Regions from separate parts of the Homo sapiens genome. Here region 1 is linked to region 2. Evidence: fine-mapped expression QTL. A gene starts in region 2. The other region holds a variant in brackets. All regions are shown on one strand. Distances are between the middles of the regions. Region 1 has its middle 12 kb from the start of ADGRG1. Region 2 holds the start of ADGRG5 (adhesion G protein-coupled receptor G5).

The links. PIP is the estimated chance that this variant, and not a neighbour inherited with it, causes the effect.
Region 1: its variant is the best candidate, but not a certain one, in a credible set for the expression of ADGRG5 in blood mononuclear cells (TOPMed, PIP 0.55).

What each region holds. Positions count from the first base shown.
Region 1 is chr16:57,613,875-57,619,183 of GRCh38, reverse strand. No RefSeq gene overlaps it. Among named protein-coding and RNA genes, the nearest start is that of ADGRG1, 12 kb to the left of the region's middle. RefSeq lists enhancers at 4,364-4,423, 4,544-4,593. The variant C/T (reference allele first, on the strand shown) is at 2,042.
Region 2 is chr16:57,540,028-57,545,378 of GRCh38, reverse strand. It overlaps ADGRG5 (adhesion G protein-coupled receptor G5), which reads right to left and starts at 2,736. Exons shown (of 12, transcript NM_001304376.3): 1 at 2,678-2,736. RefSeq lists enhancers at 973-1,282, 2,787-2,956 and a silencer at 1,343-1,392.

The DNA.
Region 1 (5,309 bases), 74 kb before region 2:
CACGCCTGGTGCGAGGTGCTGCATGCACCTCAATGCACCCTATAAACCTTCCCTCACCTCCCCTCACCCCACTGTTTCTCCCATAGTCCCCCAGGCTCCCCCTTGGCTGGGACCAATCCCTAAGTGTCGGAATTCTTTCTTTCCTGATCCGTGTGCCCTGCTAGCGCACCAAACCCAAGAACCAGCACAGGGCCTGGGATCGAGAAATTCTGGGTGATTGATGGGTGAGGAAGTGTGGGAAGAAAGCACAGACGGTGGATGGATGAAAGTGTGGACAGGCAGGGGATGCACCACGCCTTCAGCGAGTGTCTATTGAGGGCCTGCTGTGCACCAGGTCCTGTGCCAGGCATGGGGGATCCTGCAGCCAAGAAAACATAGAAACCTCTGCCCTCAGAACTGTAGGAGAGACAAGAAATGAATAAGCAAGTAATTATTAAAAATATCCAGTGGCGGCGGAGTGCAGTGGCTGACGCCTATAATCCCAGTGCTTTGGGAGGCCGAGGCAGGTGGCTCACCTGAGGTCAGGAGTTCAAGACCAGCCTGGCCAACGTGGTGAAACCTTGTATCTACTAAACATAACAAAAATTAGCCGGACATGGTGGCAGATGCCTGTAGTCCCAGCTACTCAGGTGGCTGAGGCAGGAGAATTGCTTGAGCCCCGGAGGCGGAGGTGGCAGTGAGCCGAGATTTCGACACTGCATTCCAGCTTGGGTGACAGAGTGAGACTCAGTCTCAAATAAATAAATAAATCCAGTGGTAAGAATTATGGAACAAAAATAAGCCAGGAAAGGGGAAAGAGTGATGGAGGTGGGATGGGCAGCTTAGATGCTCTCTGGGAAGGGACACCTGTGCACGGACTGAATATAGTGGGGAAAGCGGCCTTTGGGACATCCCCTGAGACCAGGGATTGGTGTTTAAGGAGCAAGGAGGAGGAGGCCAGCTTGATTCTGTGGCTGAACAAAGGAGCTGAGGTAGAGATGAGATGCAAGAGGTGAAACAGGGATGTGGACAGGTGGTCAGATGGGAGCAGAGGTGGATCCAGGTCTGGACTGGAGCCCTCTCTGACTCCCCAAGGCAGTAAAGAAGGGTTATCTGCTGGCCACAGCCCAGGTCCATTCCTGAAGACCAGCCCAGACCCCACTGGCATTCCCAGTCCCAGCTCCCTCTTGCCCCTCTTCCCCATGGCAAATTCCCAACAGTCGATGCCACCTTTGCCGCACCCATGGGCCTGCAGGCCTGCTCTGCCCTACGAGTCTCCTGCTTGAGTACAGACAGGGTTGGGGTACCAGAAGGGAGAAGGAGTGTCAGAGAGAGGGGGATCTGCAGGATGACAGCCTGACCTCTAGGCTCCGGGGTTTCCCCACAGCCCCAGAGATGTCACCCACCCTGATAAGGACACCAAGGGAGTCCCAGTGACTTCCTGTCTACCCGCTGGCAACTCCGCCACGCCTGACACCCATGCTCCATCCCCCATGACCTCTGGCCTCAGGGTCCCTGGCTTGTGATGGAGCAGCAGGGGCTGGGCCTGAGGCCCTGGGCTGGGACCTTCACTCACTAGGTACACTCGGGGAGGTTTCTTAACCTCTCTGTGCCTCAGATCATCTAGTAAATGAGGGCACATGCCTTTGCCTTGTTTGCCTTCTAAAAGTGAAGGGAAGAAGCTGCGCGTGGTGGCTCACGCCTGTAATCCCAGCACTTTGGGAGGCCGAGGCGAGTGGATCACCTGAGGTCGGGAGTTCAAGACCAGCCTGACCCACATGGTGAAACTCCGTCTCTACTAAAAATACAAAAGTAGCAGGAGTGGTGGCACATGCCTGTAATCTCAGCTACTCTGGGGGCTGAGGCAGGAGAATCGCTTGAACCCAGGAGGCGGAGGTTGCAGTGAGCTGAGATCGTGCCATTGCACTGCAGCCTAGGCAACAAGGTGAAACTCTGTCTCAAAAAAAATAAATAAATAAAATAAAATAAATAAAGGGAAGAAAAGAGACAGGGTCAGGAAATTGCTTCATCAGGTACCTAGGGAGCATTTGTGAGGTCAGGG[C/T]TTTGGCTCTGGGACTCCTCCCTCACCACCAATCCGGGACCTAGCCCAGCACCCCTGGGATGAAGGGGTGGAGCCGGAGAGTGTCCAGTTCTATGTCTGGTGGCTGCAGATGATAATAATAGCTATTATGTAATCCTGGCAACCAGGCACTGTGCTAGGCCCATTACAGGAATCAGCCCACAGACTCCTCACCATACCCCGAGAGGCGGAAGCCACTTTATAACTTTTTTTCTTTTTTTTTTTTTTTTTGAGATGGAGTCTTGCTTTGTCCCCTAGGCTGGAGTGCAGTGATGTGACCTTGGCTGACTGCAGCCTCCGCCTCCTGGGTTCAAGCAATTCTCCTGCCTCATCCTCCCAAGTAGCTGGGATTACAGGCATGTGCCACCACAATTGGCTACCTTTTGTATTTTTAGTAGAGATGGGGTTTCACCACGTTGGCCAGGCTGGTCTCGAACTCCTGACCTCAGGGAGCCACTTTATAATGCGGGTTTTACAGATAGGGCACAGGGGGTTCAGGAACGCGACGGAGATCCCACCCAGGCAGTCTGACTCCAGAACTCCCACCAGGACTCCAGGCCCCTTATTGAGCCCTGGGTAAGCCCAGTCTCAGCCTGCCCACCCCTCATCCCCACTCAGTGGAGGGCCTCAGGAAATGCAGACTCCTTCCCTCTTGGGGCACATAGGAGGTGTGGAGGGGCAGGAAGGGTCCCCAGCTCTGACATCTTGTGCTCCAGCAGGGCCGCGGGCTCAGCCTCTCTGCTCCCTCTGAGAGCTGGTGCTGCCCACAAGGTCGGGGGTGAGCTACCTGTCTCAGAGGGAAGCCAAGGAGTTGTGCAGCTAGGGCGTTGCAGATAAGACACTTACCACATCTACAGGGAGGACTAAATGGTCTCTAAAATCACCTCCTACTCACAGGTTATTTTACTTGGGCCATTTTTCACTAATTCATGTATTCATCCGCTAACCCGATATTTGCACAGCAACTACTGGGTACCAGGGCCTTAGATTTACTTAGAAAACAGCCCACAGAGCAGGCAGCAGAGGCGTGATTAGCCATGGGGCTCTAGAGCAGACCGTCTGGGTCGGTACCCGGCTCCACTGACCGGTTGGTTTATCTCCCTTAGCCTTGGTTTGCTCATCTGCAGAATGGGGGTGATAGCAGTATCTATCCATGGAGTTGTAAGGACTAAATGAGACAATGCTAAGTGCTACCACCCATGGCTGGCACGTGGCTAAGTGCTCAGTAAACATCTGCCACATCAAAATCCAGAGGAGAATTTAAATTACTAACCTTTGGTCTGTGCGAAATGGCTCACGCCTCTAATCCCAGCACTTTGGGAAGCTGAGGTGGGTGGATCACTTGAGGCCAGGAGTTTGAGACCAGCCTGGCCAACATGGCAAAATGCTGTCTCTACTAAAAATACAAAAAATTAGCTGGACATGGTGTTACACACCAGTAGTCCCAGCTACCTGGGAGCCTGAGGCAGGAGAATCGCTAGAACCCAGGGGGCAGAGGTTGCAGTGAACTGAGATTGTGCCACTGTACTCCGGCCTGGGCGACAGAGAGAGACACTGTCTCAAAAAATAAAAATAAAAATAAATTACTGACCTTTTAACTCATTCTGGTCTGCAGTGTTGCCTCCTCATATTAGAGCAATAGGAAAACTTTCCTCCATTCTGGCCACAACTGGAAGGTGGTCTCCATGCCACTGCTCCGCAGCCAGCCCTAGGATCAGCACCCCCATCCTCACCATGCTTTCTAGAAAAGAGGTGAGGGCTAGCTAGGCCATGGTATTACCCTGCCTCCTGCAGTCAGTTCATCAGATCAGTTCTCCACTCTCTGTATCCTGTGGTCACACCCAAGTTCCGTCAATATGTGATCATCCATCTGTGCACTGTCTGGGGTCTGACTCCAGCCCTGGATCTATCACTCTCCAGCTATGTGGTACTGAGCAGGTCAGGGCCCTCCTCTGAGCCTCAGTGTTCCTCATCTGTGAAACGGGGATAATGACAGGACCCGTCCTGCCGTGTTTTCAAGCGAATCACATGAGGATGCCTGGGGCGGGGGGACAGAGAACCACTCTGAAACACACTGTGCCAACCAAAAGGCTCCCCGGACTGTCCCAGCAGTTCTGAGGAGTGCCTGTCCCCGTTTTACAGACAAGGAGATGGAGGGTGACCGAAAACAACTCAAAGCAATCCACCAAGCCTCTGTGAGTCAGTAGCATCAGGCCACTTCCATGTGTTCCATGACACTGCAGAGCTTTCCTGGTACAGCTCTGGGGGCCTCTTCAGGTTTGCCCCGTGTCTTGAGTTACCTGAGTTCTGCCAGGGTCGAGATAGGAGCTACTGAGTCACCTCCTCCGGGGGCATTTTCAGCTGGGCCTCCCCATGCCTCCTCAGAGTCAGCAGCTGCTGTGTGTCAACTACCCAGAGGAAACAGGTGAAAACCAAATGTCAAGACTGGGGGCAGAGGCCGTGGCCTAGAACAAGGCAGCTCATACTGAGCGTATCCCTGGCACCCAGTGGCTTTCCTCCCAGCCCTGGAGCAGGTCTGGCCTGCCCGCAGGTCTCTTTCTGGGACCAGCCAGGAGCAGGCCTGGCCTGCCCGCAGATCTCTTTCTGGGACCAGATGTCCCTCCTGGCTCCTGATTTCCCTACTGCCATCTCTGCCTAGAGAAACGCCATCCACCCCCCTTTATGGCCCAGTTCAAATGCCCCTTCTTCCAAGAACTCCTCTTGGAGTTATCCCGTCCTCTTTTATGGAAAGTCAGGCTCTGAACCCCTGAACCCCTGAACCCCAAAGTCCCACATCCCTTTACTTATAAGAATACTGGCATCCAACACTCCCAAGCACCTCTCTGTGCCAAGCCCATTCCTAAAACTGCATGGATTGATTTATTTAATCCCCATAACAATCATTTGAAGGGAATTACATAGGGGATTATAGACAGGGAGACTGAGGCCTAAAGAGATTTAGGAACCTGTCCCAGAGCACACCAGCAATAAGTGCCAGTGGCAGGACTTGAATCCATATCTCTGTTGGACCATAGGTCCATGATTTATCTCTAGGTCATACAGTTTCTCAGTGAATGTATTTTATTCATTCATTCAACGAACATTTCCTAAGTACCCACCAAGTGCCAGGCCTCAAGCTGGGCTCTGCATACCTGACAGAGCCCAGAAACCATCCCTGCCTTCATGGAGCTGATGGCTTGATGAGGAAGTAAGGTAAGAAATTAAACAATCAATGAAGTAATTAATCAAA
Region 2 (5,351 bases):
GCCTGTTTCTTCCAGTACTTTTATAGATTCATTTTTCAAATTGAAATCTCCAGTCCATTTGCATTGATACTGGGATGCACTGGGAGATATAAATCCAATTTCATTTTTTCTCCAGGTGGTCACCCATTTTTCTTAACATGAATTTTTTAAATATATATGTTTATTTTTAATACGAAATAGAGACTATGGAGTCACAGAGGACTGGGTTCTTATTTATTTGGTTATTTGGTTATTTATTTGGCTGTGCTATTTACTTACCCTCTCAGAACCTCAGAGAAAAGACAAGGGACAAGATTTGGGGGAGCCGGGTGTGGTGGCTCATGCCTTAATCCCAGCACTTTGGGAGGCTGAAGCAGGAGGATCACTTGAGCCCAGGAGTTTGAGACCAGCCAGAGTAACATAGGGAGACCCCATCTCTACAAAATTAAACATTAAAAAACCTAACCCAGCATGGTGGCATGAGCCTGTGGTCCCAGCTACTCAGGAGGCTGAGATGAGAGGATTACTTGAGCCTGGGAGCCGTGATTGTGACACTGCACTCCGGCCTGGGTGACAGAGTGAGACTTTGTCTCCAAAGCAAAACAAAACAAACAAACAAACAAAAAAACAGAAAGGTTTGGGGAGGCAAAAGAAGCTACTGAAGGAACTCATTCAGGAGAGATAACTCAGGCCCAGTAGTGGAGGACCTGACAGCACAGAAAGGATCTTGGGCCAATTTGTCCACCCCTTCACTATACTGTTGGTGAAACTGAGGCCCAGAGAGATAGATGGATTTGACCTGCAAGGTGTAAGACCAGGCTCTTACCCCCACTGGTTCCAGGCAGGCACTGAGGGAAGAAAAGCCTGACCCTACCACACAACTGAAGAAATTGAGGCCAAAGCAGAAGTGATACCTCCCCCAGGCACTCCAGATAGAAGCTGTGGTTTCCACCCCCTTTCCCAGGAGCAAACCACAGTCTTCACTTCTGCTTGCAACCTCCAAATTCCCCTCCACATCCCTTCAGAGAGGTCACCATGCACCATCCCCCCACACGCTGAGCCATTTCATTCTCCACCCTGCAATTCATTATTTGTGGCCTTCTAGGAAACAGCAATCCCTTATCTGACTTCCAGGATGGTTCCAGTTGATGGTGGGGAAACCGAATACTGCGTAAGAGGAGTCTGCTTGAGGTTCTACAGCAGGCCAGTGGGCAAGCTGGGACTCAAACCCAGGCCTCCACGGTCCAGGGCACTACCCCCTGCACACTGCAGCCTCCCAAAGATGGTTGGGCAGCTGAGTTGCTTTGCAGACAAGTAAGACTCTATTTAGGCCAATAGAGAAATGAGGAGCTGTGGAGCACAGGACAGAGCCTTTGGAAGATGAGAATTTGATAACCAGTTGCAGTATTCAGTGCCTAGGCTGTGTGACACTGGGCAGGCACCTGACCTCTCTGTGTCTCAGGTTTTCTCATCTGTAAAATGAGGCCAAGGAAATCTATTTCCCAGAAAGAGAAATTCAAACAACAATTTCCCTGATCCTCTCCTGGGAATCAGGCCCTGAGAAAGGTCCAGGGCTCTGATCAAAGTCCTTGGCCAGGAATACATCTGAGCACAAGGCTTGGGAACCCCTGCCTTCCTCCCTACAGCTGACCATGCACCCCCGAAGCCCACCTCTCCCCAGCAGCACGAAGGCCTACTGAGCCAGCCATTCTCCGCACACAGCCCCACCTGCCCCTGCCAACCACAGTCTGGAGCCCCTGCCCCTGGCCTGGGTGAGGAATCAATCAACCTGTGGTCTCTGCAAAAAAGCACTAACAGGCCAGGAACGGTGGCTCACGCCTGTAATCCCAGCACTTTGGGAGGCCAAGGCAGGTGGATCACCTGAGATCAGGAGTCCGAGACCAGCCTGACCAAAGTGGCGAAATCCCGCCTCTACTAAAATTACGAAAATTAGCCAGGCATGCTGGCTGGTGCCTGTAATCCCAGCTACTCAGGAGGCTAAGGCAGGAGAATCGCTTGAACCTGGGAGGTGGAGGTTGCAGTGAGCCGAGATCGCACCACTGCACTCCAGCCTGGGCAACAAAGCAAGACTCCGTCTCAAAAAAAAAAAAAAAAAAAAAAGCCCTAAGAAATGCTATAGTAACCCTATTTCCCAGGTTGGGAAAGAGAGGCCACCCTGGAGCCCAACAGGAAGTCTGTGACCAAGCCAGCAGCAGGTCCATTTACCTGAGACATGCTGTCCCCAGGATCCAATCCAGGTCACTCTGAAAGGAGCTGCACCTGCTCCAGATTGCCAAGCACAAACTGTGTGCCAGGTCCTCTACTGAGCCCCTGACAGCCATCCAAGGTGCAGGTTCCCAGACTCACCCCATTTTACAGATGAGAAACTGAGGTCCAGAAAAGAAACCTCTCTTCACTTGTCCCAGACCTCGCGGGGAAGCTAAGATTCGAGACCCATGCCTAACCACTTCTTAATTTAAATTGCCCCTCCTTCCAAAAGCACAGATCTCTACATTGCCCCAGATGTGGAGCTGCCAACCAGAAAGGGAAGGAGGGTGGGTCCCCAGCTTGCTCACCAGGATATCACCAGGTCTGTGCCCACCTGGACATGGGTATGGCCAGTGCCCACTGAGGGGCCTGTGGATAAGGACAGAGAACTGGGCAGAGGAGAGTGGGGAGAGGCCCGGAGGAGGCTGACCTGAGAAGCTGCCGCTGCCGTCTCAGCTGCTGTCTCGGCTGCTGTCTTGTAGCTTCTGCAGGAAGAAGGGGAAGTCGGGAGGCGTCTGTGGGTGGCCTCTCCCTTTGCCCCACACCTGCACCCCCACTGCACTTCTCTCTGCTCCCTTCACCCCAGGCCCAGGCACCACACTCTCACTTCACTTCTTCTTTCACCAGCAGCAGCCTCTTTGCTTCCTTCGAGCTGTCGGTCATGCCCTGGTCACCCTTTGAGGGTATCACCCCGTAGAGTCTGCAGCTACTTCCTGGGGTGGCTGCTCCTCTGTGGAGGTGCTCAAGGACATGGCAACGTGGCCTTATGCAGTGCGCAAGACCCACCTGAGCTCTGCACCTTTGGGCAAGACATGTTGCCCCTCTGGGCCTCAGTTTTCCCATCTATAGAAAAGGGAAAATGATCCCTGCCTGACCTGACAATTGATGGCATATTGATGATGGCAAAGACCTCAGGCAGCAGCTTGGTCAGACTGCCTGGGTTCAAGTACCAAGCCCACCACTTACTGGGTGGGTGACTTGGGGCAAGCCACTCATGCTCTCTGAACCTGTTTCCCCTCTGTAAAATGGAGATAATGACAGTACCATCTTGCAGGGCAGTGTGGGGCTTACAAAAGGTAAGGCTGGCAAAGTCACTGGAAGTGCTCTATGAAGCCGTCATATTTCACAGATGAGGGACCTGAAGCCCAGAGAGGACCTGGGCCTGGCCCAGAGTTGCCAAGTGGCAGAGCATGGTGGAGAGGGGCCTCCCTGGCCACAGAGCCCAGAAAACATGAGGCTGGAAAGCTGGCCAGCTTCTCCTTGAGCCAGGCAGCTGGATAGGCCTGTCCTGCATCAGCCATACCCTCTGAAGAGCTCTAAGGGAAAGCAAGGAGGTGTGTGTGGGGGATAGAGAGAGAGTGTTGGTAATGGGGAGACGGTGCTCTCTCTTGCCTGGGCCCCATCCAGACTCCTGGGAAAACTGACTCAGGAATGTGCTCTTCCAGCCCTGGGGGAAAGATGGAGAGGCAGCAAAAGGGAGAAACCAGACAGGTCCTAACATGGTCTCCCCGCTCTCTGCCTCACTGGGGCCCTTCCCGCATCAGCCCAAATACAGCTTGCAGGTAGTACAAGTGGCCTCTGCTGAAGCAGGAGGGAGCTGCTCCTTGGAGGGCAGCCAGGTCCCCACCCCAGCTGCACGGTGAAGGTTTTGCAGGGACACCGGTGCACCTGTGTCCTGACTCCTGGGCTACACTCCCTCTGGGTGACTTGGGCAAGCCTTGGCCCTTCTTTGCGCTTCGGTTTTCTTTGATCAGGATCCAGACCTTGACCTCCAGGCTCTTCCTTTCCGAGGTCACCCAGCTACCTCTAGGATTGCCATGCCAACCTCCTCCTTCCTCATGCTGAATGTGAGCCCAACTGGCTATTCTTAGGGCTCAGGAGGAGGCCCTGCCTACCCCATAGCCCCTCTAGCCTGGGTCTGTACCAGCCTCACTGTGCCTTGCTTCAGTTGGGGGCTAAGTTAGTGCCCGTTACTTAGCCCTGCACTCCTGATCCTGAAGCTCACTACCAAGATACTCTCCTGCTCAAAAGCCAGTGGTGAGGCTGGGTGCGGTGACTCAGGCCTGTTATCCCAGCACTTTGGGAGGTGGAGGCAGGCAGATTACTTAAGGCTAGGAGTTTGAGACCAGCCTGGGCAACATGGCAAAACCCCGTCTCTACTAAAAATACAAAAATTAGCCGGGTGTGGTGGCACATGCTTGTAATTCTAGGTACTCGGGAGACTGAGGCACAAGAATCGCTTAAACCCGGGAGGTGGAGGTTGCAGTGAGCCGAGATCGCACCACTGCATTCCAGCTTGGGCAACAGAGTGAGACTCCACCTCAAAAACAAAACGAACAAACAAAAAACCAGTGGTGGCTCCCTATTGCCTTCACAGTCTAACCCCGTCCAACTTCCATTGCCACCCAGTCTGATTGTGCTTGCCATATTAATACCCACCTCCCTGCTCGGTCCCAGCTGTGGTCCCACACATGTACCTGGGAAGCCCTCCAGCTCCTCTCCACCCATCAGGGCTCCACTGGATCCTGCCTCCTCCAGGAAGGCTTCTCTGCCTCCTGCTCCTCCAGGAAGGCTTCTCTGCCTCCTGCTCCTCTACAAAACACTCTGGATGCTTGAGCAGTAGGAAGCCTGCCAGTCTCCTCTCAGGCCCCCAGGCAGGGAGGAGGCCACATACCATCTCAGTAAAGTGTCTCCCTATATGGGGGCTACTTACCCTGGTGAGTAGCCTGCAAGAAGATTGTAGGTGGGACCCCGACAGGACTTTAGATAAACAGTCACAATGCAAAAAAAGTCATTTACACATCTTTTTCAATCTTGGTTGTGTCCAGCAAAAGCCTCAGCTTAGAGCTAAACTGTTTCTTTTGTTTTTTGTTTGTTTGTTTGTTTGTCTGAGACAGAGCCTCACTCTGTCGCCAGGCTGGAGTGCAGTGGCGCAATCTCGGCTCACTGCAACCTCTGCCTCCCAGGTTCAAGCTATTCTCCTGCCTCAGCCTCCCAAGTAGCTGGGACTACAGGTGCACACCACCACGCCCAGCGAATTTTTGTATTTTTAGTAGAGATGAGGTTTCACCATGTTGGCCAGGATGGTCTCGATCTCTTGACAA